Regions from separate parts of the Homo sapiens genome. Here region 2 is linked to region 1. Evidence: fine-mapped expression QTL. A gene starts in region 1. The other region holds a variant in brackets. All regions are shown on one strand. Distances are from middle to middle.

Region 1 (15,938 bases):
ATCATGCCACTGCACTCCAGCCTGGGTGACAGAGTGAGACTTCATCTGAAAAAAAAACAAAAAACAAAACAAAGGGCTACAAAAAATTAGAGAATGAAAGCACTTATTTATTGGCCTGACCTATTATATTTCAGGTCAAAATTCTTTCAATACCTATAGTAGAAAGTATCCTGGCATCCATCTACAGTATTTGATTATGCCTTAATACTGGTATCTTTTCTCATAGTGTACAGTAAATTAGTGATACACTCACTTGTTTCACCTTCTCCTCAAAGTCAGCATCATTATGGTCCGAAATCATCTGTGCAAGTCTAATTTGTTCTGCAGTGGCCTAGGAATTGAGATGAGATCAAGAAAGCATAATCATGAGGCAACAGTTTAGAGAACAGGAACCTATTTCGTCAGCCTCCACTGCCCCAATTTTCTTTTCCTTGTAACAAATGAGCAAGTAATAAAGCACCATTTAGGACGCTTAATGGGGGATCAGGGATAGGTGCGGGTGGTGGCTCACGCCTGTAATTCCACACTTTGGGAGCCCAAGGCAGACAGATCACCTGATGTGAGTAGTTTGAGACCAGCCTGGCCAACATGGCAAAACCCCGTCTCTACTAAAAATACAAAAATTAGCCGGGTGTGGTGGTGCACACCTGTAGGTCCAGCTACTCGGGAGGCTGAGGCAGGAGAATTGCTTGAATCTGGGAGGAGGAGGTTGCAGTGAACTGAGATAGTGGCACTGCACTCCAGCCTAAGTGATAGAGCAAGACTCCACCTCAAAAAAAAAGATGCTTAAATCAGTAAAATGACAAAAAATTGAGTGAAACTGTTACAGAAAGAGTAAGGAACTCATTCACCAATCTTCACAGTTAAAGGGACTTCCGTCTTAGAATCACAGAACCGCTCTGAAACATCTGCCCCTTAATTCATATTAAGTCACAAAGCCATGTGTAAACTCTATTCTTATTTCTGTAATAACCAACGCCATCCTCTTATTCCTAGAGCTTAGAATACAAGTCTGACAATAGACTCAACACATCTTCTATATATCCAGTGTATGTTCAGATACTAGGAATTTTACTGCCCCAACTAAGTATTATAATTCTACTAGAAATCCACTTGAAAACACAGATGAAAGAAAAATGCGTAAGGGGGATGTCCTAATCTTACATATTCGATTTATCTGACCATAATCAAATATAAGTAATTCATTCACATTACATACCAACTAACATCAACCTGGTATGAGAAACAGAATATATCTACATCAAAGTTAATATCCAAGAGGTTAATTTACTCTTTAAAACTTAAAATTGAGCAATGCTCTAAGGTGTTTCATTTAATTTTGAAGAAACATAGTGAAGTTGCCAGCTCCTCATGGGAAAGGAATAATCAGGTAAGGTCTCAATGGAACCAGAGAGGAAAATAAAAGACAAGTTGGGGAAAAGAGGAGCAAAGGATAAAATCTGGAATGGAAAAGGCTTGCTAGAGAGGTATCAAGGTGGGGCAGGGCACAGCGGCTCATGCCTATAATCCCAGTACTCTGGGAGGCCGAGGCAGGTGGATCACCTGAGGGCAGGAGTTCGAGACCAGCCTGACCAACACGGTGAAACCCTGTCTCTACTAAAAATACAAAAATTAGCTGGGCATGGTAGCACACTCCTGTAATCCCAGCTACTCAGAAAGCTGAGGCAGGAGAATTGCTTGAACCTGGAAGGCAGAGGTTGCAGTGAGCCGAAGTGGCGCCATTGCACTCAAGCCTGGGCAACAGAGCGAGACTCCGTCTCAAAAACAAAAGAGAGAGATATCAAGGTGGAAGGTCTAAGAAATAGAAAGGTATTGCTAAAATGGCCCAGGTAAGAGAAGGGAAATGCTATCTTAAGAGTTATAGAGCCGGGCAGTGACTCACACCTATAATCCCATGAGTTCAAGACCAGCCTGGGCAATGCAGCAAGACTACCATCTCTACAAGAATTTTAAAATTAGCCTGGCATGGTAGTGTGCACTGGTAGTCCCAGCTACTCAGGAGGCTGAGGCGGGAGGATCACTTAAGCCCCAGAGGTTGAGGCTACAAATGAATGGTGACTGTGCCACTGCACTTTGACCTAGGCAAAGGGAGCTCCTATCTTAAAACAAAACAAAAAAAAAAAAGATAAAAAGCACAGGACCCATAATAAAGTGCTAAGCCTCATAATACAGTATTAAACAACAAAAAAGTAAGCATCTTGCCTTACAGCATGTCATGAACAGTTATCAGGACCTAAGTAAAAAAAGAGCCAAGGACTAGAAAACAAAAATAAGGAACCTAAACCAACAGTTCAAAGCACAGAATGATGCTGTACTGCATGGAAACCAGTATCAGCAGGCAACGCTATCCATGAATCCGTATGCCTTGGATTATTTACCTGTGGCCGCTGCTTGTGCTGTGTCTGGTTTTGGTTTTGAGGTTGTTCCCAGTTTCCCCGGGCTCGGTTAGTGCCCACCGATGTCATCATTTACAGTATATACAAATAACAGTATTTACAAGGTAGAATACTGAAAGATTTAAAAGAAAATTAGGTATTAAATGTGGGCAAAATATGTTTTTAACTCTCTCATCAGCACCTTCACCACCAAACACTTTCACTTCTTCAAAGGAACAAATCAATAAGATTCATTTATTCTTACAACATAATTAGCTTGATAAATTCCTTAAGGAGCTATGGCTGTTAATCCATTTTTATGTAACAAGAAATGTATAAAGCATGTGTAAGTGATGGATTTTTTTAAGAAGTTACAGCAGTTTGGTTACTAGTCCCCCATAAGCAGACTTTACATTTAACTAATAATCAAAAGCCTTTTACATAGATGCAAGTATCTGAAGTACCTTTGACAGAAGGAAAGATAATCAGTAAAGTCTGGAAACAAAAACCTTCCAGGAAGGAGATTAGTCTACACTCCAGAGAAATAATTTTAAATACTGTATTCAATCACCTAAGAAAACAGCCTTACCTGCCTTACAACCTTTTTTATGTAAGCTGCATGTGACCTCCATTGCTTGGGAAAGGACAAGTTCAAGTCTAGACTCTTCTTTGTCCCTCAAGTTTCATCTCTCTCAGTATGCTATGGGTTTGTTTTGTGTTTGTGGGGGTTTTTTGTTTTTTTAAACCACAGCCTTCAACAGGGTACGTATTAGCCCCAATGACTTTGTCCAGAATCTCTGTTCTCTGGAAAATAATTCCAACACACTGCTTTTACAGGTGCTTCTCTTGGTCTCCTAGTCCACATTTTCAAGAAACCAAAATGGCAATTACCCTCCACCACTCACCTTAATATACAGGGAATCTCAAATTTGTCTCAAACCAAAAGCATCTAGCACAAAGTTTTATTTGGAAGAAAGTGCTTCTAAGAAATCATTTTAAACTTGAGACCTTAATGCTGGCAAGATGACTTAGTTGAGTCTTTAAAGAGACACAGAACACACAGGGCCTTCCCCAAACCAGAATATAGTTTTTGTTACAAGACTTCTAACAAGGAAGGATTCTACTGAATTCAAGTTCCTTTAGTTCATACTTTGTTTTATAATACAATCTCAGCTGCTGCATTTAGTAAAAAAGAAAACATTAATCATATGATAGAGTGTTCAAAATAATAGGTTACTCTGCATTTATTCCCTTCCAAAGAGGGTAAGTTTATACTTTTCTGCTCTATATTTAATTTTTCTTGTTAATGAAACCTTATACAACGTAATTCTAGACTGCCCAGAGATATTACTGGATTTGAGTGGGAGGAAGGACTTCTAAAGAAATATGCAAGGATTAACTATTAGGGAAGTGAATTTCATCTGACTTTCTTGGATGTCACAGAGAAAGCTGACTTTTTCTGTGCATAAATTCTTCACCAAGTTGCGTCAATAGGTTGCATAGGTCTTTGTATCAAGAAAGATTTTTTTAAGGTAGCTTCTCAGGTAATTTTTAACCCATTACCTCTTCCCCCTACACATATTGGCACACAAAAGCCCATAAGTATTTCAAGCTAGAAAGGATTATTTGCTACACAGTAGCCCATTTTCCCAGGTTAGCATTATAGTCGTTTCAACTTTACAAAAAAAAAAAATGTTTAACCAAGTACCCCGAATCCAAATCAACAAGACTACATATACACATATATACGTATATATATAAAGACGAGAGGAAAACTATTTTGTTTTAAAATTGGCTCTAAGATGAAGTTTCTAATATGGCATAGTCATTTCCAACCCACTACTGTAACTTACAAATATTGACTGTTTTCTACTCCACATGTGATATCTATTTGTGAGGATAAGTTATATTGCAGGTATAAACTGCATGACTAGCTATACACTATTGCATATACTGTACCAGTCAGATGTAAACATATTAAAAAGTCATCTTGAAAGATATAATTAACCAAGAAAGAAAAAAATTCTCCTAATCACTCTTGCTAGTAACATTTCCCTCTTACAAGTGCTTCGAAATGTGACTAAGAAAATTTTTACCACCTAGTAGTGACAACACTGAGCAACAGGTCAAAAGTAAGTGATCTGGAATGGATCACTTGAGGGCACAGAATTAGTAGCAAGCAGACCCATTCCCAGCTATCACACTGGAGATGAAGAATCTTGTTACTTACTTGCTCTTTCTTAGAAAATAAAAAGATTTAAAGGAAGTAGGGTGAGAAGTATTGGAGACCAAGGAAATCGTGCGAGAGTAAACAGAGGTTTCAACACAGGAGTGCCCTTGACTCTTTTTTGAAAACTAGCTACTTAAAAAAATAGCCAGAGAAATTTCACTGAAAAAACTAAATAACAAATATTTATTGAGAATCTACTATGTGTCCAATACTTCAGGAAAATACAAAAGCAGTATGACTTAGTAGCTGCCCTCAGGGAGCTTACAATCTAATTTAAGAAACAATTCAGAAACTGAAGCTAGACTGAGTTGGGTAAAATTTGCTACCTCTAACAGAACAACTAATTTCTGTAGATGCTTTGTTGAAATGGCCCCTGCATCCCCTTCCCCACCACCTTGATATCTAGTTAGTAAGAGTACTTCCCAGTTAGGACATAGCAAGGAGGAGCTTTAAAGATGAAAAACAAAACAGGACATTTTTAGGCCTTTCATCACTAGTTTATGTGCCAGCAATATTTCCCATTCACAAAGGAAACAATCATTGAGATAGTCTAATCTTTAAGGACAATGGTGTCAGATCTCAAAGCAGTTTTATCAACTGATACACAGCCAAAATGTTTTAATTCTCTGTAATCATTGGGATAGTCTAATCTTTAAGTACAATGGAGACAGATCTCAAAGCAGTTTTATCAACTGATACACAGCCAAAATGTTTTAATTCTCTAGAAACGCTGGTTACTAGTAATGTCCATCACCTCCCAGCAAGTCACATCAGGTATCCCCAAAACAGGATATGCGGCGGAGGAAGGTAGGATGGGAGAGAAGACAAAAAAAAAGGATTTCTCCATTTAATAATCAGGGAGAGTCAAAGGCAAAAACGTTAACAATAATAACAAAAACGCCTGTTACTGTGGTGTTTTTCTTTCCACAACATCCTACACCAGAGGTGGCTACATTTCAAGAATGGTGGAAAAGGAGCAGTCTCCAGTTTGTGACATCAGTTTGCAAAGCAATTTAAGGGCTGTCCACAAGGTTAAGGGTTTGAAGAAACTGGGCATTCCTGTACCATTATGAGAAGAGTGAACAAATACCCCAGTGCTCTAGTGACGTCCCTTAAGCGTAAATACACCCTATGGGGGCCTCCATGTCCAGCTTCCCAAATAACACAATTGTTTGGGGTACCCAAACTACAGTATAAACAGGAAGCTAAAGACAGCAGCAAAAACATATTCCAAGAACTGGGTTGGTGAGAAAGAAGGGAGGGTAATAAGAGGAGCTGACAAAGAGCCTGGAAACGGAGAGGGGACGCAAGCCCACGGGTGGAGGATGGGAGGCTCACCCCCCTCAGCGCCACATCGAGAGCCCACGGGGCCAATCTCCTCCCTACCTCCCAGCCGGAACAAATTAATCCTTCGCACACCAAACTGAGGGCCACATGGGGGAGTTTGGGGGAGCTCCACCCCATCGCCCTCCCTCCCCCACGCCACCCCCAAACCAGGCCGGATCCGGATCAGAGGAGGCCCGCAGTGGGTGGAAAGGGAGGAGGCCCTCTCCTCCGCAGGCACCGGCCGGGGTGAAGAGAGAGCCCTACCTCAGGCAAGGCCCAGGCCTCGCTCGCTCGCGCTCTTTCTCGCTCTCCCCTCTCAGGCTCTAGCCGCATGGCCCCCCCTTCCTACGGCTGCTCCAAGCCCCGCCCCGGCCACGCTCCCAAATCGAGGCCCCGGCTCTGGCGCGGCCCACTAGGCCGCGAACCCAACCATAAACAAAACCTCCGGGGGCCGACTCGAGGTGGGGGGCGCCAGGGCTCGCATGACTCGGGGGGGGGTGTACAGTGGGGGAACACACGGTGTGGGGGGGCCTACCGAGGGAGGGGATACGGCGGGGGCAGGGGAGAAAAGAGGGAGGGTAAAAGGGGGATCGCGGATTTAAAGGGGCCGCGGACAATACCCGGCCCCGCCGCGCTGCCGCTGCCGCCGCCGCCGCCGCCAACGCCGCTGCGCTCCCAACTTTACCTCAGTCTCCTCCACACTGACACCCCGGGCCGCGCCGCCCCTGTCACGTGATATAAGATTCCCTCTTCCCCACCCCCTCCCTCCTTTTCCCTCTCGCGCTCGCTCTCGCGCCTTCCCCCGCCCACTTGCCTTCCTGCGTCCCTCAGCGCGTGACGCTAAAAGGGGCGCGCACGCAAGCGTGCGCGTGCCGCCTCGCCACGAGACACCTCTTTCCGGCTCCGCGAGTCCACCCCGCCTCCTTCACGGCGGCCCTGCCTCCACCACGTGACGCACGGATGGCCGCCGCTTCCTCTTACTGTCGTAGTTCCGCGTCTGAGCGCTCGACGCTCCTGGGTGCCATTGCCTGCCTGAGTCACGTGTCAGGGGGAAGCTGGAAGGCGTCGTTCTCCTTTCCCAGCTCTCCTGCCTGTCCGCCATGTTTTCAGGCCGGGTCTGGCTTGGTCTTCCCCCGTAAGGAAATGGCCGGGGAGCTCCAGGGGACCCAGGCGCCGTCGCTTCGGCGGAGCCTGGGCTGACCAGCCAGGACAGCGGGGTAAACCCGAACAATTCTGCGCGAGGTAGGGAGGCCATGGCGTCCGGCAGTAACTGGCTCTCCGGGGTGAATGTCGTGCTGGTGATGGCCTACGGGAGCCTGGTGAGGAGATTACCCCACCCCATTCCTGCTGTCGCATCTTACCCAGTAGAGACCCTCCTTTTGAGCTGTACCCCGTCTGCATTCTCCACCCACTCACCTGCGCCTATCCGGGCTTTGACTCCTTATTCCAGGAGTAGGTGGGAGTTTAAGTCACTTAGTCGGGCCGACCCGCCCTCGTTAGTCTAGAACCCTCCCTTTAACGCTAGAGCACAGACCCCACGCCTCCCTGCTGCTGGCTTCTTAGATCCACCCCCATCATAACGGCCTTGCTTTGCCCCAAGTTTTACCCTGAAACATTCCTGAGAGCCGGAATCTGGGGATTTGGAATGAAGGCATGCTTTTTTAAAAAAAAAACAAAACAAAACTGACTTTTTATTAAAGGATTTTTACATCTTTTTGGACAGGTGTTTGTACTGCTATTTATTTTTGTGAAGAGGCAAATCATGCGCTTTGCAATGAAATCTCGAAGGGGACCTCATGTCCCTGTGGGACACAATGCCCCCAAGGTAGGTCCTTAGGGCACAAGTTAAACATACTTCTCCAGATCTTTTAGGGTCAAGAATGAGATTTCCTCTGCCTTTAGTGATGACTTTAATTCTCATGTTTCTTTGCGTGCACTTGTCCTTGTACTTACTAAGTTGAGCAGGCACTGTGCGCTTTGGAACTTGGCTTACCTGCTCAGTGCTGTGGCAAGCATGTGGCTCATCCTGGAACTTCTGTTTTTGTATCTGCAGAATGAAGGGCTTGGGTCGAAGTTCCCAACTGTTTGTAGTAAAATATTTCCCAGCTCATCTTAAACTACCCAGTGTTTTTTGTTTGATTAGGATGGGGTTGAGATCATTAAGGTTAACCCAAGAGCAATGAGAAGGGTTACCTTTACATAATTTTAGACTTAAGAGGAGCTCCATAAATCATCTAATTCCACCATTCATGTTACCAAGAAGCCCAAGAAAAGGAGGCAGTTTACCAGAAGACGTATAGGAAGTGAATAACCCAGTGGTCTTTTATCTTTGTCTGTACTTTCTCCTTAGGTGACTGTCTTCCTTTCCTTGGCTTTAGCTACAGATGAAATTTTATCTCTATCCTAGAACTCTTTCCTGAGTTCCTTACATATATTGCCAACTGATTACCTGACATTTCCACTTAGATTTGTAGTAGACATCTCAAACCCAACATTTGTGAATCAGAATTATTGCTATCCCACTGCCACTCTCATTCTGCTTCTTTAGTCTTTCGCTTCTAAGTAAAAGACACCTGCTTCCCTTACCAACCCCCTTTTGTGTGGCTCTCCCCAGATCACTGGGACCCAGCTCCACTGGCTGAATTTTCCACCCTTTTTGCTCCTGTGATCTGGAATGGTCTTCAATTGGCTAGCTCATTCATTCTTTTGATCTTAGCTTAAATGTTACTTCCAAAAAAGGAATGCTTATTACCTATTTTAAAGTAGGTTCCCCCTCTCTTTATTTTCACATGGTACCCTGATTTTTCCTTCATAGCATTTACCATAATTTTTATGTTTGTCCATTTGTTTAAAACATGCCTCTCTCTTCCGCTAGACCGTAAGCTTCAAGAATGCAGGCACCATGCCAGTTTTGTTCACGACTATAAAGCCAGGACCTACACATAGTAGGTACTCAGTAATTTCTTGTTGAATGAAAAACAGGTTAGTGCCAGGGCCTACACATAGCAGGTACTCTGTAATTTGTTGCTGAATGAAAAACAGGTTAGTTGTAGAGCTAGAGCTCATGACTCCCTCAACTCCTAGAGCACTGTACTTTCATTAACAAGTGCTATTAACCTTCCCCTCTTTGTTCTTTGCTGACATAGTACATGAAAAGGCTCTAGGAGGATGTCCTGGCTTGAAACCTTAACAGTCCTGCCTGCCTCATGAGAAAGACATAGGGTTAGTTTCTAGCACATCATGAACCAATCAATACTTTGGCTATTCAGGGGTCCCTTGGTCTAGTTCAGAGCAATATTCCTTTTGCTTAAAAATTTTTTCTAAATTCTCAACCATTGCTAGTGAAAGTATAAATTAGTAAAACCACTTTGGAAAATAACTGGTCATTGTCTGGTAAGATTGCACATGTACCTAATCCATGGTCCAACAGTTTCTCTCCTACCATAGAGAAATTAAGTTTTGCTCATGTGTACCAAGAAACATGTGCAAGATTATTTATAGGGGCATTGTTCATAATATTTGAAGAAGAAACTTAATTCAAATGTCCACTTTTCAATTATTATATAGGCTGAGTGCAGTGGCTCATACCTGTAGTCCTAGCACTTTGGGAGGCTGAGGCCAGAAGATCATGTGAGCCCAGGAGTTACAGACTGCAGTGAGCTATGATTGCACTGATGCACTCCAGCATGGGCAAGAGCAAGACCTTGTTTCTAAAAAATAGGTAGTGGTATATTCATATTCTGGAATAGTGTAAAAAATGAAAAACTGAAGATAAATATATGAAGACAAGTCCTCAAAATACTTCTGAATGAAAAAAATTGCAAACATGAATCTCAAAAACATGCTGAGTGGGCCGGGCATGGTAGCTCATGCCGGTAATCCCAGCACTTAGGGAGGCCGAGTTGGGCAGATAACACTTGAGGTCAGGAGTTCGAGACCAGACCAGCCAACATGGTGAAACCCAATCTCTACTAAAAATACAAGAAAAAAATCCTAACTACTCGGGACGCTGAGGTAGGAGAATCCCTTGAACCCAGGTGGCAGAGGTTGTAGTAAGCTGAGATCAAACCACTGCACTCCAGCCTGGGTGACAGAGCGAGACTCTGTCTCACCAAAAACAAAAAAACCATGCTGAGTGAAGAAAGCCAAAATGCCGTTCACAAGAGAATATGTACCATGTGCTTCCACCCCATTTATATGAAATTCTAGAACAGGCAGAACTGTAAAAGAGTACATCATGTTGCCTGGGCTGGGAGAGGGGAGATTTCCAGGTGATGAAAATATTCTTTACTTTGATTGACGTGGTGGTGAAGGGGGTATGTTCATTTGTCAAACTCATCAATTTATATACATAAAATGAATGCATTTATTGTATGTAAATTCAACCTCAATAAAGTATATTTGAAAAATTTTGCTGGGTGCGGTGGCTAACGCCTGTAATCCCAGCACTTTGGGAGGCTGAGGCAGGTGGATCACCTGAGGTCAGGAGTTCAAGACCAGCCTGGCCAACACGGTGAAACCCCGACTGTACTAAAAATGCAAAAAAATTAGCTGGGCGTGGCGGTGTGTGCCTGTAATCCCAGCTACTCAGGAGGCTGAGGCAGGAGAATCACTTGAGCCCCGGCGGAGGTTGCAGTGAGCAGAGATCACACCATTGCACTCCAGCCTGGGTGACAGAGTGAGTCTCTGTATCAAAAAAAAAAAAAATTTAAGGCCAGGCGAGGTGGTTTACACCTGTAATCCTAGCACTTTGGGAGGCCGAGGCAGGCTGATCACGTCAGCTCAGGAGTTCGAGACCAGCGTAGGCAATATGGGGAAACCCTGTCTCTATAAAAAGTTTAAAAATGGGCCAGGCGCGGTGGTTCACGCCTGTAATCCCAGCACTTTGGGAGGCCCACATGAGAAGATCACAAGGTCAGGAGTTTGAGACCAGCCTGGCGAGCATGGTGAGACCCCATCTCTACGAAAAATACAAAAAATTAGCTGGGCATGGTGGCATGCGCCTGTAGTCCCAGCTACTTGGGAGGCTGAGGCAGGAGGGCAAGGAGAATTGCTTGAACCCAGCAGGCAGAGGTTGCAATGAGCCAAGATCATGCCACTGTACTCCAGTCTGGGTGACAGAGCAAGACTCCATCTCAAAAAAAAAAAATGTTTAATAATTAGCCATGCATGGTGGTGTGTGCCTGTAACCCCAGCTACTCAGGAGGCTAAGGCAGGAGGATCATCTGAGCTCAGGAGGTGGAGGTTATAGTGAGCTGAGATTGTGCCATTGCACTCCAGCCTGGGTGACAGAGTGTGACCCTGTCTCAAAAAAAAAAAATTTTTTTTTTAAACAAGTTGCAGAGGGATTCTTAAAGTATTTTTCCATTTGTATCAAGTTGAAAACCAGGCAAAGCTAAGCATCTTTTTTAGGGTGACACGATAAAACAGTGAAGAAGTGTATGAGGACTATTGACAAGTTAAGGTTTGGGGTGCGGAGCATTCAATGAGGGATGGGCACACAAGACTTGAAAGTTAGTGGTAGGGCCGGGCGCGGTGGCTCACGCCTGTAATCCCAGCACTTTGGGAGGCCGAGGCGGGTGGATCATGAGGTCAGCAGATCGAGACCAACCTGGCTAACAAGGTGAAACCCCGTCTCTACTAAAAATACAAAAAATTAGCCAGGCGTGGTGGCGGGCGCCTGTAGTCCCAGCTACTCGGGAGGCTGAGGCAGGAGAATGGCGTGAACCCGGGAGGCGGAGCTTGCAGTGAGCTGAGATTGCGCCACTGCACTCCAGCCTGGGCGACAGAGCGAGACTCCGTCTCAAAAAAAAAAAAAAAGAAAGTTAGTGGTAATGTTCCATTGCATAAACTGGATATTGGTTATAGGTGTTCATTATTATGCTTTTTATAATTATTTAAAATGTACATCTATGTTACCTGTATTTTGTGTATCTTATGTTTCACAATGGGAGTTTGTAAAAAGTTACAACAAAAAATTTATTTCCTGGGGCTCTGGTAACCCTCTTAGGTAAGAGAGATTAATATGAAACTGAAAATAGTAGTTGCTGCTGGGTAACTGAGAGGTGCTACCTTTAGTATCTTTTTTTTTTTTTTTGGAGACGTCTCACTCTGTCACGCAGGCTGGAGTGCAGTGGCGCAATCTCGGCTCACTGCAAGCTCTGCCTCCCGGGTTCACGCCATTCTCCTGCCTCGGCCTCCCGAGTAGCTGGGACTACAGGACCCCGCCACAACGCCCGGCTAATTTTTTGTATTTTTAGTAGAGACAGGGTTTCACCGTGTTAGCCAGGATGGTCTCGATCTCCTGACCTTGTGATCCACCCACCTCGGCCTCCCAAAGTGTTGGGATTACAGGCGTGAGCCACAGCACCCGGCCCCTTTACTATCTTTAAAATTTGTATACCATGAATTTGACTTGGCTATTTTAAAAGAAATATGTGTTAATTTTTTTTTAAAGTAGCCTCTAGCTAGGTGCATACCTGTAATCCTAGCTGCTCAGAAGGCTGAGGCAAGAGAGGCTGGGCGCAGTAGCTCACACCTGTAATCCCAGCACTTTGGGAGGCCAAGGCAGGCGGATCACTTGAGGTCAGGAGTTTGAGACCAGCCTGGCCAACATGGTGAAACCCCATCTCTACTAAGAATAGAAAAATTAGCCAGACATGGTCGTACGCGCCTATAATCCCAGCTACTCTGGAGGCTGAGGCAGGAGAATTGCTTGAACCTGGGAGGCGGAGGTTGCAGTGAACTGAGATTGCGCCACTGCACTCCAGCCTGGGTGATAGAGCAAGACTCTGTCTCAAAAAAAAAAAAAAAAAATTGGAAATAATGTTGGTGCTGTATAGCTTGAAGGATTTCTGGCACAAGTTAAATGTTCTAGCTTAGAGATGTGCAGCTTGGAGAGGTTATTGGAAAACCCAATCCCGTTCTTTCCTAAATTCTTACCTCTTATCTGGTAATTTTATTAACTACATGAGCATGGTCTCTATTTCTGTTGTCTTAGTTATTCATTAACTCTGCCCCATTTTCACATTGGTGGAAAGCAGAGTGCAGGGTAAATGATTGTGTATTCTTTTTTTATGTGAACAGGACTTGAAAGAGGAGATTGATATTCGACTCTCCAGGGTTCAGGATATCAAGTATGAGCCCCAGCTCCTTGCAGATGATGATGCTAGACTACTACAACTGGAAACCCAGGGAAATCAAAGTATGTGGCAAGCTCTTGGAATGCTTCAGTGAGGAGTCCCACAAGTCCAGAATTCCTTTTCTCTCAGAGTTGTCAAAAGCTGCTGGCAAAGCCTTAGTTATTCCTGTTATTGGATATATGTTAGATGCAGAGCCCATTTATTAGCTTGCTGGAGTTTGGGGAATTTTTTTTTTCTTTTTTGAGATGGAGTTTCACTCTTGTTGCCCAGGCTGGAGTGCAATGGTGCAGTCTCAGCTCACTGCAACCTCCACCCCCTTGTTCAAGCAATTCTTCTACCTCAGCCTCCTGAGTAGCTGGGATTACAGGCATGCGCCACCACGCCTGGCTAATTTTGTGTTTTTACTAGAGACGGGGTTTCTCCATGTTGGTCAGGCTGGTCTCAAACTCCTGACCTCAGGTGATCCACCCACCTCAGCCTCCCAAAGTGTTGGGATTACAGGCATGAGCCACCACGCCCAGCCTGGGGAATATTTTTAGGGTTATGCCTAACACCAGTCTTTTCCTCAACAGGTTGCTACAACTATCTGTATAGGATGAAAGCTCTGGATGCCATTCGTACCTCTGGTAAGGGCTACCTGACAGGGTCCATTCTAGGATCCTGAAAGCCCACCTAGGGAACAGAGTAATGAACCCACTTTGTATGTTAGGATTTGTCCTTTCTGCACATCCCTGGCTAGTAGGAAATTCTAGAGTTTTGAAAGTACTAGATTAGAGATTTTGCTGAAGGAAATGATATAAGCAGGTTATTCTCCAAAGAGTCTGGGTGTTTTGTTTTTTAAAGTTCTTCTCTTGAGACCTTTAGTTTCATGAAGTAGATGATAGTAATTTGCTTGTTTTTCCACAAAGGACAGGTGGCACCTGCTTTTTCACTAAGCCCAAGATAGATTGTTCTTGAATTTTTTCCATTCTGTCAACACTTGTCATATATGCTTTATCTCTATGAAAACAGTTTATATCTTAAACCTAGGATGGATGAGTAAGCAGGATGGTAAAATGTGTGATGACACTATCATGTGTCATAGATGTAGCTTACAACTGTGGTGTTACCACCAAATGACCACTCAGGCACAGCTTTATACCTTTGGTCTCAATCAGAATCTCCCTCTAACTCAACTTGCTCATTTCATTAGACCTATTTCTTTTTATTTTTGAGACGGAGTCTTGCTCTGTTGCCCAGGCTGGAGTGCAGTAGCACGATCTTGGCTCACCACAACCTCCACCTCCTGGGTTCAAGCGGTTCTCCTGCCTCAGCCTCCCGAGTAGCTGGGATTACAGGTACCTACCACCATGCCTGGTTAATTTTTGTATTTTTAGTAGGGACAGGTTTTCACCATGTTGGCCAGGCTGGTCTCAAACTCCTGACCTCAGGTGATCTGCCTGCCCCGGCCTCCCAAATTGCTGTAATTACAGGCGTGAGCCACTGCGCCCAGCTTCATTAGACCTACTTCTAAGTTTGGGGAATTAACTAGAAAGACTAAAGAATGGGGCAGGCGCAGTGGCTCATGCCTGTAATCCCAACGCTTTGGGAGGGCGAGGCAGACAGATCACAGGAGGCCAGGAGTTCAAGACCAACCTAGCCAACAAGGTGAAACCCTTTTGTATTTTTGTCTCTACTAAAAATACAAAAATAAGCCTGGCATGGTGGTGCACATCTGTAATCCCAGCTAATCAGGAGGCTGAGACTAGAGAATTGCTCAAACCTAGGAGGTGGAGGTTGCAGTGAGCCAAGATCACTGCCACTGCACTCCAGCCCGGGTGACAGAGCGAGACTCCATCTCAAAAAAAAAGACTAAAGAATGAGAAGAGATATCATTGTGCTGTTTTCTCCACAGAGATCCCATTTCATTCTGAAGGCCGGCATCCCCGTTCCTTAATGGGCAAGAATTTCCGCTCCTACCTGCTGGATCTGCGAAACACTAGTACGCCTTTCAAGGGTGTACGCAAAGCACTCATTGATACCCTTTTGGATGGCTATGAAACAGCCCGCTATGGGACAGGGGTAAGCCAGTTTTTTCTTCGGGGCACTAAAGAGATCCCTCAGACTGAGAGATCCTCACTCTTCCTTTCTCTTTCCTAAGGTCTTTGGCCAGAATGAGTACCTACGCTATCAGGAGGCCCTGAGTGAGCTGGCCACTGCGTGAGTTTGGAGGGGAACGTGTCAGAGGGAGCTGGTACAGTAGTGTTGGACTGTTGCCACAGTGCAGTGACCTTCATAAAGCATATAAACAAAATCCATGATACCATAAGAGTTGTCAGGTTCTAGACTATTAGATCAGTCTCTTACATTAGAAAGCAGATGCGGCCGGGCACAGTGGTTCACGCCTATAATCCCAGCACTTTGGGAGGCCGAGGCGGGAGGATCATCTGAGGTTGGGAATCCGAGACCAGCCTGACCAACATGGAGAAACCCCGTTCTCTACTAAAAATACAAAATTAGCCGGGCGTGGTGGCGCATGCCTGTAATCCTAGCTTCTGGGGAGGCTGAGGCAGGAGAATCTCTTGAACCCGGGAGGCGGAGGTTGCGGTGAGCCAAGATCGTGCCATTATACTCCAGCCTGGGCAACAAAAGTGAAACTCTGTCTCAAAAAAAAAAAAGAAGAAAAGAAAGCAGATGCAACTATACAAGCTAGTAAAAGAAGTTTTTACTAGCATTTTTCTTGTGTGCATTTTTCTTGTCTTTTGTTTAGCCCAATAAAATGTCAAAATTGGTGTAGCCTAGCAAAGGGAATAGTTTTTCAGCACACACAGGGATTCCTTCTCTTCAGAGTCTCAGCGTCCCTTT
Region 2 (15,938 bases), 64 kb before region 1:
TCAGTCCTTTGGATGTTAATCCAACTGGGTCAGTGAACCTAAATAATTAAATAACTCCTCCTCAATCCCTCGGTCTCTCTGATTCCTTAATTATCCCGCAGCAGTATCACCCCTATGCTTACATAGCACAGTGTTCAGCCAATGATTAGAATAAGCATTGTGTTCCAACACCTCAAGCCCATATAGCATCCACTTCTGCCAATATATCTGTTTGAAGGATGAGAAGTGTATTAAAATGTGCAGCAGTGTTCAAGTCTTCCTTGTCTTTTATTTTTCAGGGAGCTCTCTGAGCTATCCTCCATGCATATGATAGTTTCCCAGTGAGCCAGGGATGTGGGAGAGCTTATCTCAGCCCTTTTGTAGTTTCCTATTTTCCAGCTAAATTTCTGGCTTTTCCACCACTGAACACAACTAGGAGTGCTACTTTGAGTTAGTACAGCTAGAGGGTTTTTTGCCTGTTTATTTCCTACCAACTTCATATCATTCAGCTGAGAACATTGTAGGCTTTTGTCCGCCTCCACCTAACTAACTCCTACAATTTCAGTCTACCCACTGTGACAGCAAACATTGCTGATTTTCACAGCCAGTTCCATACTGGTAAAACTACAGTTCCCAGCCACCAAGGAAGTTGGATGGGAGCAGCCTCAGGCAAGAAGGCTGCAAACTCACATTGCTTTTGCTTGAAGCTGTAGCAGTTTTTCAAGAATAAAAGCTCCTCAATTTGTTTTCTGCCTTGCTCAGTTTCCAGAGACTTGAAATCATTGTTTGGGGCAATTTTATTTAATTTCATAGTTTTTTTGGTGAAGATTCACAGATCCCTTTACACTGCTATAGCCAGAAGTTCCTTGGTGTAGTTTTTATTTATTTATTTATTTTAATGTATCTTATTTTTATTTTTATTTTTTTTGAGACAGTCTCGCTGTGTTGTCCAGGCTGGAGTGCAATGGTGTGATCTCGGCTCACCGCAACCTCTTCCTTCAAGGTTCAAGCGATTCTCCTGCCTCAGCCTCCCAAGTAGCTAGGATTACAGGTGCCTGCCACCATGCCCAGGTAATTTTGTATTTTTAGTAGAGATAGGGTTTCACCATGTTGGCCAGGCTGGTCTCAAACTCCGGACCTCAGGTGATCTGCTGCCTCGGCCTCCCAAAGTGCTGGGATTACAGGCATGAACCCCGCGCACGTTCCTTGGTGTAGTTTTAAATTGACATGAGTGTTACTGTGCAAACAATATGGTTTTGTTTTTTCACTCATTACTATTTTTAAGATCTCTCCATGTTGTCTTTTGAATATTTTGTATATCTGCTGAGTAGCATTCTATACTATGCAACTCCCATATTTAACCTTTCTTTTTCTTTCTTTCTTTCTTTTTTTTTGAGATGGAGTCTCGCTCTGTTGCCCAGGCTGGAGTGCAATGGCGTGATCTCAGCTCACTGCAACCTCCATCTCCCAGGTTCTAGCGATTCTCTTGCCTCAGCCTCCCAAGTAGCTGGGACTACAGGCGCCTGCCACCATGCCCAGCTAATTTTTGTATTTTTAGTAGGGACAGGGTTTCACCGTGTTGACCAGGCTGGTCTCGAACTCCGGACCTCAGGTGATCTGCTCTCCTTAGCCTCCCAAAGTGCTGGGATTACAGGCGTGAGCCACTGCACCAGGCTTATATTTAACCTTTCTACTTTGCTAATGAAAGTCACCCAAAACTGAGTTCTAACATTGAGCTTCCACAAATAATGCTGTGATAAATATTCTTGCATGTGACCCCTTATGAATCTAGACACAAGTTTCTCTGTAACGTATATGAAGGAGTTGAGGACTAAACTCTAATTTTTTTTATCTTGCCCAAATTCCTATCTAAGGGATCTGGGGAGTCATGACCTACAAATCATAAATTCTCATCAGATAGGTTTTATTTAACCCTATATATCATGATTTACTTTCCAACCTGACTCTGGTATAACATTACGAGACAAAGAAGAAAATCAAAATATTTTACCCCAAAACATGTTTCTTTGTCATATTTTAAAATGCCCCTGCAAAGCTGTTCTTTGTGGGGAAAATCTACATCCATAAAGAATCTCTATTAACATAGCCAGGGCTGGGGGCGGTGTCTCATGCTTGTAATCCCAGCACTTTGGGAGGCTGAGGCAGGAAAATCACTTGAACCCAAGAGTTGGAGGCTGCAGTGAGTGGAGATCGCGCCATTGCACTCCAGCTTGGGAGACAGAGCGAGGCTCCATCTCAAAAAAAAAATATATATATATATATATATTTATACATAAATACATATATATAAAAATACATATACATATACATATATATAAATATATATATGTGTATATATATATACATCTTTTTCTTCCAGATCCTCCCAATCCTAAAGAGACTAACTGAGATCTGAATAGGAAACATTTGTCACCTATTGTCTCCAAGGCAGCCATTATGAGACTTCAAAAGAGCTTTGGTCTCCACAATCTTTATCTTAACCTGAACATTCCCTTTCTATCTATCCCAGCTCTTTAGACAACCTTAACCAATTGTCAACCAGAAAACATTTAAATTCACCTATAGCCTCGAAGCCCCCACTTTGAGTTGTTCCACCTTTCTAGACCAAACCAATGTATGTCTTAAATGTATTTAATTGATGTGTCATTCTTCTCTAAAGTGTATAAAACCAAGCTGCACTCCAACCACTTTGTGCACAGGTTCTCAGGACTTCCTGAGGGTTGTGTCACAGGCCATGGTCAGTCATCTTTGAGTCAGAATAAATCTCTTCAAATATTTTACAGAGTTCCACTCTTTTGGTCGACAGAGTAGAATTGCTGGGTCATAGAGCATGTGCATATTTAATTTCACAAAGCTCTGCCAGATTCTTTACTACAAAAATGGAAACGGCTGCATGTCTCACACTCCAGGAGTACAGCAGGGATTTGTTTCCTCTCATCTTGGATCTTGCTAATATTTGGTATTACCGGACTAATTTTTGCCTACCTGATGGGTGTAAAGTGGTATCTCATTATTATTTTAATGTGCATTTTTCTGATTGCGTTCAAGGTAGAGGATTAATTTATACTGTTGGTATTCAGATTTCCCCTTCTGTGATTGCTTACCATGTTTATTTTTTTCCTTCCCAGGAATGGCATCTGGGTTCAGCAAACTCAGAATGAAAGTCAGAAGCTACTCATCAGTGAGTGCTTAATCATGTTTTTTACCTATTTTCTTTTTTTCTTTTTCTTTTTTTTTTATTGATCATTCTTGGGTGTTTCTCGCAGAGGGGGATTTGGCAGGGTCACAGGACAATAGTGGAGGGAAGGTCAGCAGATAAACAAGTGAACAAAGGTCTCTGGTTTTCCTAGGCAGAGGACCCTGCGGCCTTCCGCAGTGTTTGTGTCCCTGGGTACTTGAGATTGGGGAGTGGTGATGACTCTTAAAGAGCATGCTGCCTTCAAGCATCTGTTTAACAAAGCACATCTTGCACCGCCCTTAATCCATTCAACCCTGAGTGGATACAGCACCTGTTTCAGAGAGCACAGGGTTGGGGGTAAGGTCACAGATCTACAGGATCCCAAGGCAGAAGAATTTTTCTTAGTACAGAACAAAATGAAAAGTCTCCCATGTCTACCTCTTTCTACACAGACACGGCAACCATCCGATTTCTCAATCTTTTCCCCACCTTTCCCCCCTTTCTATTCCACAAAACCGCCATTATCATCATGGCCCGTTCTCAATGAGCTGTTGGGTACACCTCCCAGACGGGGTGGTGGCCGGGCAGAGGGGCTCCTTACTTCCCAGTAGGGGCGGCGGGGCAGAGGCGCCCCTCACCTCCCGGACGGGGCGGCTGGCCGGGCGGGGGGCTGACCCCCCACCTCCCGCCCGGACGGGGCGGCTGCCGGGCAGAGACGCTCCTCACTTCCCAGACGGGGTGGCTGCTGGGCGGAGGGGCTCCTCACTTCTCAGACCGGGCGGCTGCCGGGCGGAGGGGCTCCTCACTTCTCAGACGGGGCGGTTGCCAGGCAGAGGGTCTCCTCACTTCTCAGACGGGGCGGCCGGGCAGAGACGCTCCTCACATCCCGGACGGGGCGGCAGGGCAGAGGTGCTCCCCACATCTCAGACGATGGGTGGCCGGGCAGAGACGCTCCTCACTTCCCAGATGGGATGGCGGCCGGGAAGAGGCGCTCCTCACTTCCTAGATGGGATGGCGGCCGGGCAGAGACCCTCCTCACTTTCCAGACTAGGCAGCCAGGCAGAGGGGCTCCTCACATCCCAGACGATGGGCGGCCGGGCAGAGACGCTCCTCACTTCCCAGACGGGGTGGCGGCCGGGCAGAGGCTGCAATCTCGGCACTTTGGGAGGCCAAGGCAGGCTGCTGGGAGGTGGAGGTTGTAGCGAGCCGAGATCACTCCACTGCACTCCAGCCTGGGCACCATTGAGCACTGAGTGAAGGAGACTCCGTCTGCAATCCCGGCACCTCGGGAGGCCGAGGCTGGTGGATCACTCGCGGTTAGGAGCTGGAGACCAGCCTAGCCAACACAGCGAAACCCCATCTCCACCAAAAAAATACGAAAACCAGTCAGGCATGGCGGCGTGCGCCTGCAATCACAGGCATTCGGCAGGCTGAGGCAGGAGAATCAGGAAGGGAGGTTGCAGTGAGCCGAGATGGCAGCAGTACCGTCCAGCTTTGGCTCGACATCAGAGGGAGACCGTGGAAAGAGAGGGAGAGGGAGACCGTGGGGAGAGGGAGAGGGAGAGGGAGCCCTATTTTCTTGCTTTTAGTTTAGTGCCTTATTGATTTGAGGAGTGGGTTGTGTGGTCTAGATATTAACCCATTGCTTGCTTTAAATTTTGCAAACTCCGCCCTAGGTCTATTCACTATTACCTTTGATTATAGTTTCCATTATTGAGCAGGATTATTTAATTATATATATATATACAGGGTTTCGTCACCCAGGCTGGAGTGCAATGGTACGTTCTTGGCTCACTGCAACCTCCACCTCCCTGGCTCAAGTGACCCTCCCGCCTCAGCCTCCGAAGTAGCTGGGACCACAGGCACGTGCCACCATGCCCAGCTAATTTTTTGTATTTTTGGTAGAGATGGGGTTTCACCATGTTGCCCAGGCTGGTCTCAAACTCCTGAGCTTAAGCAGTCTGCCCACTTCAGCCTCCCAAAATGCTGGGATTACAGGCGTGAGCCACCACATTCAGCCCTTAATTTTTTTTTTTTTTTTTTTGAATCAGAGTTCCGCTCTTGTTTTCCAGGCTAGAGTGCAAAGGTGCAATCTCGGTTCACCACAACCTCCACCTCCCAGGTTCAAGCGATTCTCTTGCCTCAGCCTCCCGAGTAGCTGGGATTACAGGCATGCGCCACCATGCCTGGCTAATTTTTGTATTTTTAGTAGAGACGGGGTTTCACCATGTTGGTCAGGCTGGTCTCGAACTCCTGACCTCAGGTCATCTACCCGCCTAGGCCTCCCAAAGGGCTGGGATTACAGGTGTGAGCCACCATGCCTGGCCCCTTAATTTTGATATAAAAAATTAACCCATTGTCTGACTTATGGTTTGTATTTTGGGGTCTTATTTAAGAAGCCCTCCTTTGCCTCAAAGTCAGAAAGAACACAGGTTCTTCTATTACCACTATAGATTTGAGGCAGGAAAATAGGGTCTGGAGGCAGGGAACATAAGGCCAATTCACACTTCAGCTATGACAGGAAATAACCTCTCCATAGGGCCTAGGCCAAGTAAATGACTTTGTAACTTTACTTCATCCTCTCCATTTACATAGGGTGTACACCACATAACCAATGGAAACCTCTAGAGTGGTATTTAGACTCCCAAATATTTTGTAACAGGGCCTTTGAGCCCCTATGCTCGGGCCTGCTCCCACACTGTGGAGTGTACTTTCATTTTCAATAAACCCCTTCATTCCTTCCTTGCTTTGTTTGTGCATTTAGTCCAATTCTTCTTTCAAGACGCCAAGAACCTGGACACTCTCCACCATTAACAGTTTCACCTATAAGCTTTGTATTTCCAATCCATCTGAACTGGCATGCATGTAATTTTCTTTTCTTCCAGTTTTTCCAAAATCATCTCTTAAAACAATCCATCCAGGCTGGGCATGGTGGCTCACGCCTGTAATCCCAGCACTTTGGGAGGCCAAGATGGGTGGATCACAAGGGAAGGAGTTTGAGACCAGCCTGGCCAACACGGTGAAACTTCATCTCTACTGAAAATACAAAATATATATATATATATATTAGCCGGGCATGGTGGCGCACACCTGCAATCCCAGCTTCTCAAGAGGCTGAGGCAGGAGAATTGCTTGAATTCGGGAGGCAGAGGTTGCAGTGAGCCAAGATTGCACCACTGCACTCCGGCCTGGGCGACAGAGCAAGATTCTGTCTCGAAAAGAAAAAAAACAATCCATTCTTCCTCCACTGGTCTGTTGTATCAACCCTGTCAAATGTCAAGACTGCTATAAATGTATTTTCTTTACATTAACTCACTTTTTTTGCATTACATTTATAAATTTAAATTTTTAATTTATTGCTAATATATGGATTTTTTTTTTTTTGAGATGGAGTCTCGCTCTCTCACCCAGGCTGTAGTACAATGGCACAATCTCTGCTCACTGCAACCTCCGCCTCCCGGGTTCAACAGTTCCCCAGCCTCAGCCTCCCAAGTAGCTGGGACTACAGGCTTGCGCCACTGTGCCTGGCTAATTTTTTGTATTTTTAGTAGAGACAGGGTTTCGCCATGTTGGCCAAGCTGGTCTCAAACTCCTAACCTCAGGTGATCCACCTGCCTTGGCCTCCCAAAGTGCTGGGATTACAGGTGTAAGCCACTGTGCCCGGCTACATGGATATATCAAGAGTGAAATAATTAAACATTTTTCTTTTCTGTTTTTTTATTTCTTTCTTTTTTTCTTTTTTTTTGGAGGGGGGGATAGGATCTTGCTCTGTCATCCAGGCTGCAGTACAGTGGTCTAGTAATAGCTCACTGCAGCCTCAGTCTCCTGGGATCAAGTGATCCTCTTGCTTCAGCCTCCCCAGTAGCTGGAACTACAGGCATATGCCACCACGCCCAGCTAATATTTTTTGTTTAGACAGGGCTCTAAAAGGGCTGGGATTATAATCATGAGCCACTGTACCAGGACAAAGTCAAATAATTCTACAACACATGAAAAATAGCAGCTTCCTGACTTCAGTGTCAATATGGTCCATCCTTTTCCAATCCCCAGAGGCAACTATTACCAACTTTTTTTTTTTTTTTTTGAGACAGAGTCTCCTTCGGTGGCCTGGGCTGAAGTGCAGTGGTGTGATCTCGGCTCACTGCAACCTCCATTTCCTGGGTTCAATTGATTCTCGTGCCTCAGCCTCCTGAATAACTGGGACTCCAGGTGTGCACCACCACACCCAGCTAATTTTTGTATTTTTAGTAGAGATGGGGTTTCTTCATGTTGGCCAGACTGGTCTTGAACTCCTGGCCTCAGGTGATCCATCTGCCTTGGCCTCCCAAAGTGCTGGGATTACAGGCGTGAGCCACCAGCCCTGGCCAACCATTACCAACTTTTAAAATATTTTCTTTAATATTTACCATTATATACCTAAATATGCTTACAGTGATACTTACTTTTTGTTTTAGAAACTAACTATTGGCCGGGCGCAGTGGCTCACGCCTGTAATCCCAGCACTTTGGGAGGCCGAGGCGGGCGGATCACGAGGTCAGGAGATCGAGACCATCCTGGCTAACATGGTGAAACCCTGTCTCTACTAAAAATACAAAAAATTAGCCAGGCGTGGTGGCGGGTGCCTGTAGTCCCAGCTACCCGGGAGGCTGAGGCAGGAGAATGGCATGAACCTGGGAGGCAGAGCTTGCAGTGAGCCAAGATTGTGCCACTGCACTCCAGCCTGGGGGACAGAGCATGAGACTGCATCTCAAAAAAAAAAAGAAAAAAAGAAACTAATTATTGTGTTTACAGTATGGAAGATAAGGATTTAGTTACATATTGCACTGCCCACAACAAATATATGCATTGGTTCCTCCATCTTCCCAATGTAGACAAGTACTTTTTATTTTTATTTTATTTATTTATTTATTTATTTATTTATTTATTTATTTTTATTTTTATTTTTTTTTTGAGACGGAGTCTCGCTCTGTCACCCAGGCTGGAGTGCAGTGTTGCAATCTCGGCTCACTGCAACCTCCGACTCCCGGGTTCAAGTGATTCTCCTGCCTCAACCTCCCGAGTAGCTGGGATTACAGGCACGTGCCACCACGCCTGGCTAATTTTTGTATTTTTTTGTAGAGATGGGGTTTCACCTTGTTGGCCAGGCTGGTTTCAAACTCCTGACCTCAGGTGATCCTCCTGCCTTGGCCTCCCAAAGTGTTGGAATTACAGGCATGAGCCACTGTGCCCAGCCAACTACATTGTTATTAACTGTAGTCACCATGATGTACAATAGATCTCTTGAACTTATTCCTCCTGTCCAACTGAAATTTGGTATCCATTGACCAATGTCTCCCCAGCATTCACCACCCCCTAGTCTCTGGTAGCCACCATTCTACTCTCTACCTGCATGAGGTTTTTTTAAGATTCCATATATAAGTGGGATCATGTGGTATTTGTCTTTCTGTGCCTGGCTTACTTCACTTAACATAATGTGCTCTAGGTTCATCGATGTTGTAAATGACAGGATCTCATTCTTTGTTTTCTATTTTTTCTGTAAAGAATGTCTTTATTTTAGAGATGACGTCTCGCTATGTTGCCCAGGCTGACCTTGAACTCCCTGGCTCAAGCAATCTTCCTGCCTCAGCCTCCTGAGTAGCTGAGACAACATGAGCATGCTACCGAGCCAGGCTTCATTCCTTTGTAAGGCTGAATAGTACTGCATTGTGTATATATGCCACATTTTCTTTATCCATTAACCCACTGCAGGAGACTTGGGTTGATTCCTACTCTCAGCTATTGTGAACAGTACTGCAGTGAACATGGCAGTGCAGGTATCTCTTCAACATACTGATTTCAGTTGCCTTGAATATATACCTAGTAGCTGGATTGCTGGATCTCCATTGTCTTATACTTTGTGTTGCTGATAAAGTTTGAGAATATTATGATTCTTGATCCTTTAGGTTATTTTGTTATCCACTGACACAGCCCTCAGGAGATCCTGAGAACATGTGCCCCATTTTTCTTTCTCTCTCCCTCTAGAATCTTTTAAACTCTGTTGTCTCCAGTGTTCTAAAATTTCATATGGCATGCCTTAGAGTGGGTTTATTTTCACCCTTGGTGTCTGGCATGTGGCAAGTCCTTTCAGGTTAGAAAGTAATATCCTTCAGGCCGGGCACAGTGGCTCTTTCCTGTAATTCCAGCACTTTGAGAGGTCGAGGTGGGAGGATAACTTCAGCCCAGGAGTTGGAGACCAGCCAGGGCAACATGGCAAGACCACCGTCTCTACCAAAAACAAAACAAAACAAAACAAAACAAAAAACAAAAAACAAAAATTAGTCGGGTGTGGTGGTGCACACCTATAGTCCCAGCCACTCAGGCTGAGGCAGGAGGATTGCTTGAGCCCAGGAATTCGAGGCTGCAATGAGCTATGATTGTGCCACTGCACTCCAATCTGGGTGACAGAGTGAGATTCTGTCTCAAAAAAAATTAAGTAATATTCTTCAATTCTGGAATATTTTCATGACTTATTTCATTGATAATTTATGCCGTTCTAGTTTTATGTTTTTCTTTCTTTTCTTTTCTTTTTTCTTTTTTTTTTTTTTTGAGATGGAGTCTCACTCTCTCTCCCAGGCTGGAGTGCAGTGGCGTGATCTCGGTTCACTGCAAACTCCACCTCCTGGGTTCACGCCATTCTCCTGCTTCAGCCTCCCAAGTAGCTGGGACTACAGGCACTCGCCCCCACGCCCAGCTAATTTTTTGTATATTTAGTAGAGATGGGGTTTCGCCGTGTTATACAGGATGGTCTCGATCTCCTGATCTCATGATCCGCCCGCCGCGGCCTCCCAAAGTGCTGGGATTATAGGCGTGAGTCACTGCGTCCAGCCTTTTTTCTCTTATTTTTTGATCAGTTATTTTGTTTACTTTGTGGAGAGTTCAACTTTGGAGAGTTGAACTCTATCACATTTGTGGGTTTTATTTCTGTTTTTAGAGACAGAGTCTCACTCTGTCACCCAGGCTGGAGTGCAGTGGCACAATCATAGCTCATTGCAGTTTTGAACTCCTGGACTCAAGCGATCCTCCTACCTCAGCCTTCCCAGTAGCAGGGACTACAGTGTGCACCACCCTGCCTGGCTAATCTTTAATTTTTTGTAGAGACGGGTCTCACTATGTTGCCCAGACTGTCTCCAACTCCTGGGCTAAAGCCATTCTCTCCCTTCAGCCTTCCAAACTGTTGGGATTACAGGCATGAGCCACTGCACCCGGCCAAGTACATACATCTTTATAGTGCTTAGAAATATGAA[T/G]CAATAGGCTAGGTGCAGTGGCTCATGCCTGTAATCCCAGCACTTTGGGAGGCCAAGGTGGGTGGATTACTTGAGGTCAGGAGTTCAAGACCAGCCTGGCCAACATGGTGAAAGCCTGTCTCCATTAAAAACTCAGAAATGTAGGCTGGGCGCAGTAGCACATGCCTGTTATTCCAACATTTTGGGAGGCCGAGGCGGGCATCTGAGGTCAGGAATTCAAGAGCCTGGCCAACATGGTGAAACCCCGTCTCTACTAAAAATACAAAAATTAGCCAGGCGTGGTGGTATGCACCTGTAATCCCAGCTACTTGAGAAGCTGAGGCAGGAGAATGACTTGAACTCGGGAGGCGAAGGTTGCAGTGAGCCAAGATCGTGCCATTACACTCCAGCTTGGGCAACAGAGTGAGACTGTCTCAAAAAAAAAAAAAAACAAATTGCCGGGTGTGGTGGCTTGAGCCTGTAGTCCCAGCTACTCGGGAGGCTCAGGCAGGAGAATCGCCTGAGCCTCCACTTACAGGTGGAGGTTGCAGTGAGATGAGATTGTACCACTGCCCTCCAGCCTGGGAAACAGAGCAAGACTCCATCTAAAAAAAAAATTGTGTACATTTAAAGTTTTTAATCTCTCTGCATAGTCTCTGTTTCTTTCAAGTTGTTTCGTTTGTCTCTACCACTCATGTTAAATGCTTTCTTCACATATCTGGTGATTTTTAGCTCCATTTATATTTGTGATGGTACTCTAAAAAGCTGATTAGAAAAAACAATTGTATTTTTATACAATAGAAGGGTTAAAAAATAATAAAAAGGTAGGAAGACTGGTTTTACTAAATAAAACTATAGTATTTTAAGGTATGATATGGGCACAAATATAGACAAATAGACTAATAGAATAGAAAGACCCAGCACAGTTGTGTGTGTGCATGTGTGTGTGTTGTTGTTGCTATTGTTTTGGGGCTGTTTTAGTTATTTATTTATTTTTACCTGGGATTACAGGTGCCCACCACCATGCCCGGCTAATTTTGTATTTTTAGTAGAGATGGGGTTTCACTGTGCTAGCCAGGCTGGTTTTGAACTCCTGACCTCAGGTAATCCACCTGCCTCAGCCTCCCAAAGTGCTGAGATTACAGGCGTGACCCACCGTACCCGGCCTATTTATTTATTTACTTATTTATTTATTTATTTATTTTTGAGGCAGAGTCTCACCTCTCGCCCAGGCTGGAGTGCAGTGGCATGATCTCTGCTTACTGCAACCTCTGCCTCCTGGGTTCAAGCGATTCTCCTGCCTCAGCCTCCTGAGTAGCTGGGATTACAGGTATGCGCCACCACACCTGGCTAATTTTTGTATTTTTAGTAGAGACGAGGTTTCGCCATGTTGGTCAGGCTGGTCTTGAACTCCTGACCTCGTGATCCCCCCGCCTTGGCCTCCGAAAGTGCTGGGATTACAGGCATGAGCCACCGCACCCAGCCTATTTATTTTTTGAGATAGGGTCTTGCTCTGACACCCTGGAGTGCAGTGGCGTGATCATGGCTCACTGCAGCCTCAAACTCCTGGGCTCAAGTGATTCTCCTGCCCTAGCCTCCCCAGTGGCTGGGATTACAGGCACATGCCACCATGCCCCACTAATTTTTTAATTTTTATTTTGTACAGATGGTGGGGGGGTCTCACTTTGTTGCCCAGGCTGGTCTTAAACTCCTGTGCTCAAGCAGTCCTCCCACCTATCCCTCCCAAAGTGCTGGAATTACCAGCGGGAGACACAGTGCCCAACCTTGTTTTTTAAAAAGAAATATTTATATATTTGTGCATATTTTTTCCAAATTGGACCCAAATTAATACCATATACAAACAAAAATTCCAGGTAGGTCTAAAAACCTAAACGTAAAACACAAACTTATAAAGATAAATTAGGCTACAATAAATCAACTTCTGTTCACCAAAAGATACAATAGAGAATTAAAAGACAGAGCTTCATTACTATCATCTCCTGTCCTTTGTTCTTGTGATATACCTCTTTAGAGAAATCCCTTTGTCATAATTTAGTGGGATTTCCAGAGGAAACAGAAGTAAATAAATATGTCAGATTTACCACTCTCTTTTTTTTTTTTTGAGATGGAATTTCACTTTTGTCGCCCAGGCTGAAGTGCAGTGGCACAATCTCTGCTCACTGCAACCTCCACCTCCTGGGTTCAAGAGGGTCTCCTGCCTTAGCCTCCCTAGTAGCTGGGATTACAGGCGCCCACCCCCACACCCAGCTAATTTTTTGTATTTTTAGTAGAGACGGGATTTCACTATATTGGCCAGGCTGGCCTCGAACTCCTCACCTCAGGCTATCCACCCGCCTCAGCCTCCCAAAGTGCTGGGATTACAGGCGTGAGCCACCATGCCCGGCCACCACTCTTTTTTTTTTTAAATATTTATTTTTTATTTTATATTTTGAGACGGAGTCTTGCTCTGTTACCCAGGCTGGAGTGTATGGTGCAATCTCGGCTCACTGCAACCTCTGCCTCCCGGGTTCAAGTGATTCTCATGCCTCAGCCTTCCGAGTAGCTGAGATTACAGGCCCGTACTACCTTGCCTGGCTAATTTTTGTATTTTTAGCAGAGACAGCAAGTTATCCGCCCATCTTGGCCTCCCAAAGTACTGGGATTACAGGCGCGAGCCACCACTCTCGGCCTTTTTTTTTGAGACAGTCTCACTTTGTTGCCCAGGCTGGAGTGCAGCAGCATGGTCATGGCTCACTGCATCCTTGACCTCATGGGCTCGACAACGTCCCACCTCAGACCCCTGAGTAGCTGGGACTACAGGCATGCACCACCATGCCCAGCTAATTTTTAAATTTTTTTGTAGAGACAGGGTTTCCCTATGTTGCCCAGGCTGGTCTCAATTGATCCTCTCCGCTCAGCTTCCCAAAGTGCTGAGATTACAGGTGTGAGCCACTGTGACTGGCCCCAGATTTGCCCCTCTTAACCACAGTACTAAAAGCTTTTGTTGTTGTGATTGGGTCTCACTCTGTCGCCCAGGCTGGAATGCAGTGGTGTGATCATAGATCACCGCAGCCTCGAACTCCAGCCTCCAGGGATCCTCCTGTTTTAGCCTCCTGAATAGCTGAGACTACAGATGTGGGCCACCATGCTCAGCTAATTTATTTATTTATGTTTTTTGAGATGGAGTCTCGCTCTGTCAACCAGGCTGGAGTGCAGCAGCACAATCTCAGCTCACTGCAACTTCCACCCCCTGGGTTCAAATGATCCTCCCGCCTCAGCCTCCTAAGTAGCTGGGATTACAAGTGTGCACTACCACACCCAGCTGATTTTTGTATTTTTAGTAGAGTTGGGGTTTCACCATGTTGGCCAGGCTGGTCTCGAACTCCTGACGTCAAGTGATCTGCCCACCTTGGCCTCCCAAAGTGTTGGGATTACAAGTGTGAACCACAGTGCCCAGCCTGCTTGAACTCCTGACCTCAAGTGATCCACCCGCCTCAGCCTCCCAAAGTGCTGGGATTATAGGTGTGAGCAACGATGCCCAGCCTGCTCAGCCAATTTTTAAAAAATATTTTGCGGGGCGTGGTGGCTTACGCCTGTAATCCCAGCACTTTGGGAGGCTGAGGCAGGCGGATCACAAGGTCAAGAGATCGAGACCAGCTTGGCCAACATGGTGAAACCCTGTCTCTACTAAAAATACAAAAATTAGCTGGGCGTGGTAGCACGTGCCTGTAGTCCCAGCTACTCGGGAGGCTGAGGCAGGAGAATCACTTGAACGCGGGAGGCAGAGGTTGCAGTGAGCCGAGATTGCGCCACTGCACTCCAGCCTGGGTGACAAAGCGAGAGTCCATCTCAAAAAAAAAAAAAAAAAAAAAAATATATATATATATATATATATATTTTAGAAATAGGATCTTGCTATGTTGCCTCCGCCTCCTGGGCTCAAGTAATCCTCCTATCTCAGCCTCCCAAGTAGCTAGGATGATAGGTACAGTCTAACACACCTGGTTAAAAACTTTTATAATGAGAAAAGGAAGCCTGGGCAACATGGCAAAACTCCGTCTCTACAAAAAATACAAAATAATAATAATAATAAAAGGAAAAAAAACGAGAAAAAAAATTAGCTAGGCATGGTGGTGTACGCCTGTAGTCCCAGCTACTCAGGAGGCTGAGGTGGGAGGACTGAGCCCAGGTCGAGGCTACAGTGGGCCAACATCGCCCCCTACACTCCAGCCTGTGTGACAGAATGAGACCCTGCCTCAAAAAGAAAAAAGGACCTAGTAACGTTTGTGCCAGGTGTATTTTCTCTAACATACATAACAATTTTTTGAGATGGAATTTCGTTCTTGTTGCTCAAGCTGGAGTGCAATGGCATGATCATGGCTCACTGCAACCTCCACCTCCTGAGTTCCAGCAATTCTCCTACCTCAGCCTCCCAAGTAGCTGGGATTACAAACATGTGCCACCACATCTGGCTAATTTTTGTATTTTTAGTAGAGACAGGGTTTCACCGTATTGGTCAGGCTAATCTCGAACTCCTGACTTCATGTGATCCATCTGCCTCGGCCTCCCAAAGTGCTGGGATTACAGGCGTGAGCCACCACACCCAGCCACATAACAACTTTTTAAGGCCAGTAAAGTAAGGGAAATTTACCCATGTGCTTCCCCAGTTACTTCATGAACTCTCCAGTCAGTGATCCCACACTCAGGGAAGCAGTTAACCCCTACTTCCACACCCACACCCTTTTTTTGGGAATCTGATGTATCCCTCTCTAGAAATTTTCCTGAAATTATTTCTAGTCATCTCCTCAGTAAGAAAAATCATTTTTCTTTTTCTTTTCTTTTCTTTTTTTTTTTTTTTTTTTTTTTTGAGATGGAGTTTCACTCTTGTCGCCCACGCTGGAGTGCAATGGCGTGATCTCGGCTCATTGCAACCTCCTCCTACCAGGTTCAAGCGATTCTCCTGCCCTAGCCTGGGATTACAGGCACCCGCCACCATGCCCAGCTAATTTTTGTATTTTTAGTAGAGACAGAGTTTCACCACATTGGCCAGGCTGGTCTTGAACTCCTGACCTCAGGTTATCTGCCTGTCTCAGCCTCCCAAAGTGCTGGGATTACAGGCATGAGCCAACGAGCCCGGCCTCTTTTTTTTTTTTTCTTGCTTGAGAAAGAAAAATCATTTTCTACTTGTGCCTGACCCTTACTTATGAAATCAGGTTTTAGATGCAGAATAAAAAATTAAGGAATAAGGAGAAGGCAGAGGACCAAGATAATTTCGGAAGTGTTGGATGGTTCTAGAAACTGAAATAGCCTTGACAAAACCAAGACAAAAAATTAGCATAAATAAAGGTTTTATTGGTCAGTTTGGGTGAGTGACAAACTGACATGGCCCCAGTTCACTATTCCACATATCCAAGCCCCTGAGGTGGCAAGAGAAGCTAAGCTTATTAATGGTGGGCAATGGGTGAGAGGTGGAAAGGACTTGAAGGCCTCTGAGGGTT

What was found. PIP is the estimated chance that this variant, and not a neighbour inherited with it, causes the effect.
Region 2: its variant is fine-mapped to the expression of UBAP2L in blood mononuclear cells (TOPMed, PIP 0.95).

What each region holds. Positions count from the first base shown.
Region 1 is chr1:154,211,675-154,227,612 of GRCh38, reverse strand. UBAP2L (ubiquitin associated protein 2 like) reads right to left here and starts at 6,658. Exons shown (of 27, transcript NM_014847.4): 1 at 6,638-6,658; 2 at 2,400-2,529; 3 at 254-331. The coding sequence starts at 2,489. LTAP1 (lipid transport auxiliary protein 1) reads left to right here and starts at 7,023. Exons shown (of 7, transcript NM_001098616.3): 1 at 7,023-7,271; 2 at 7,676-7,777; 3 at 13,039-13,156; 4 at 13,667-13,720; 5 at 14,989-15,155; 6 at 15,235-15,293. The coding sequence starts at 7,206. RefSeq lists silencers at 6,485-6,634, 7,495-7,564 and enhancers at 6,155-6,902, 6,885-7,324, 6,903-7,650.
Region 2 is chr1:154,275,709-154,291,646 of GRCh38, reverse strand. HAX1 (HCLS1 associated protein X-1) reads right to left here. Exons shown (of 7, transcript NM_006118.4): 7 at 15,772-15,938. It overlaps LOC124904806 (small nucleolar RNA SNORD59), which reads right to left and starts at 3,187; the gene lies at 3,120-3,187. The variant T/G (reference allele first, on the strand shown) is at 10,462.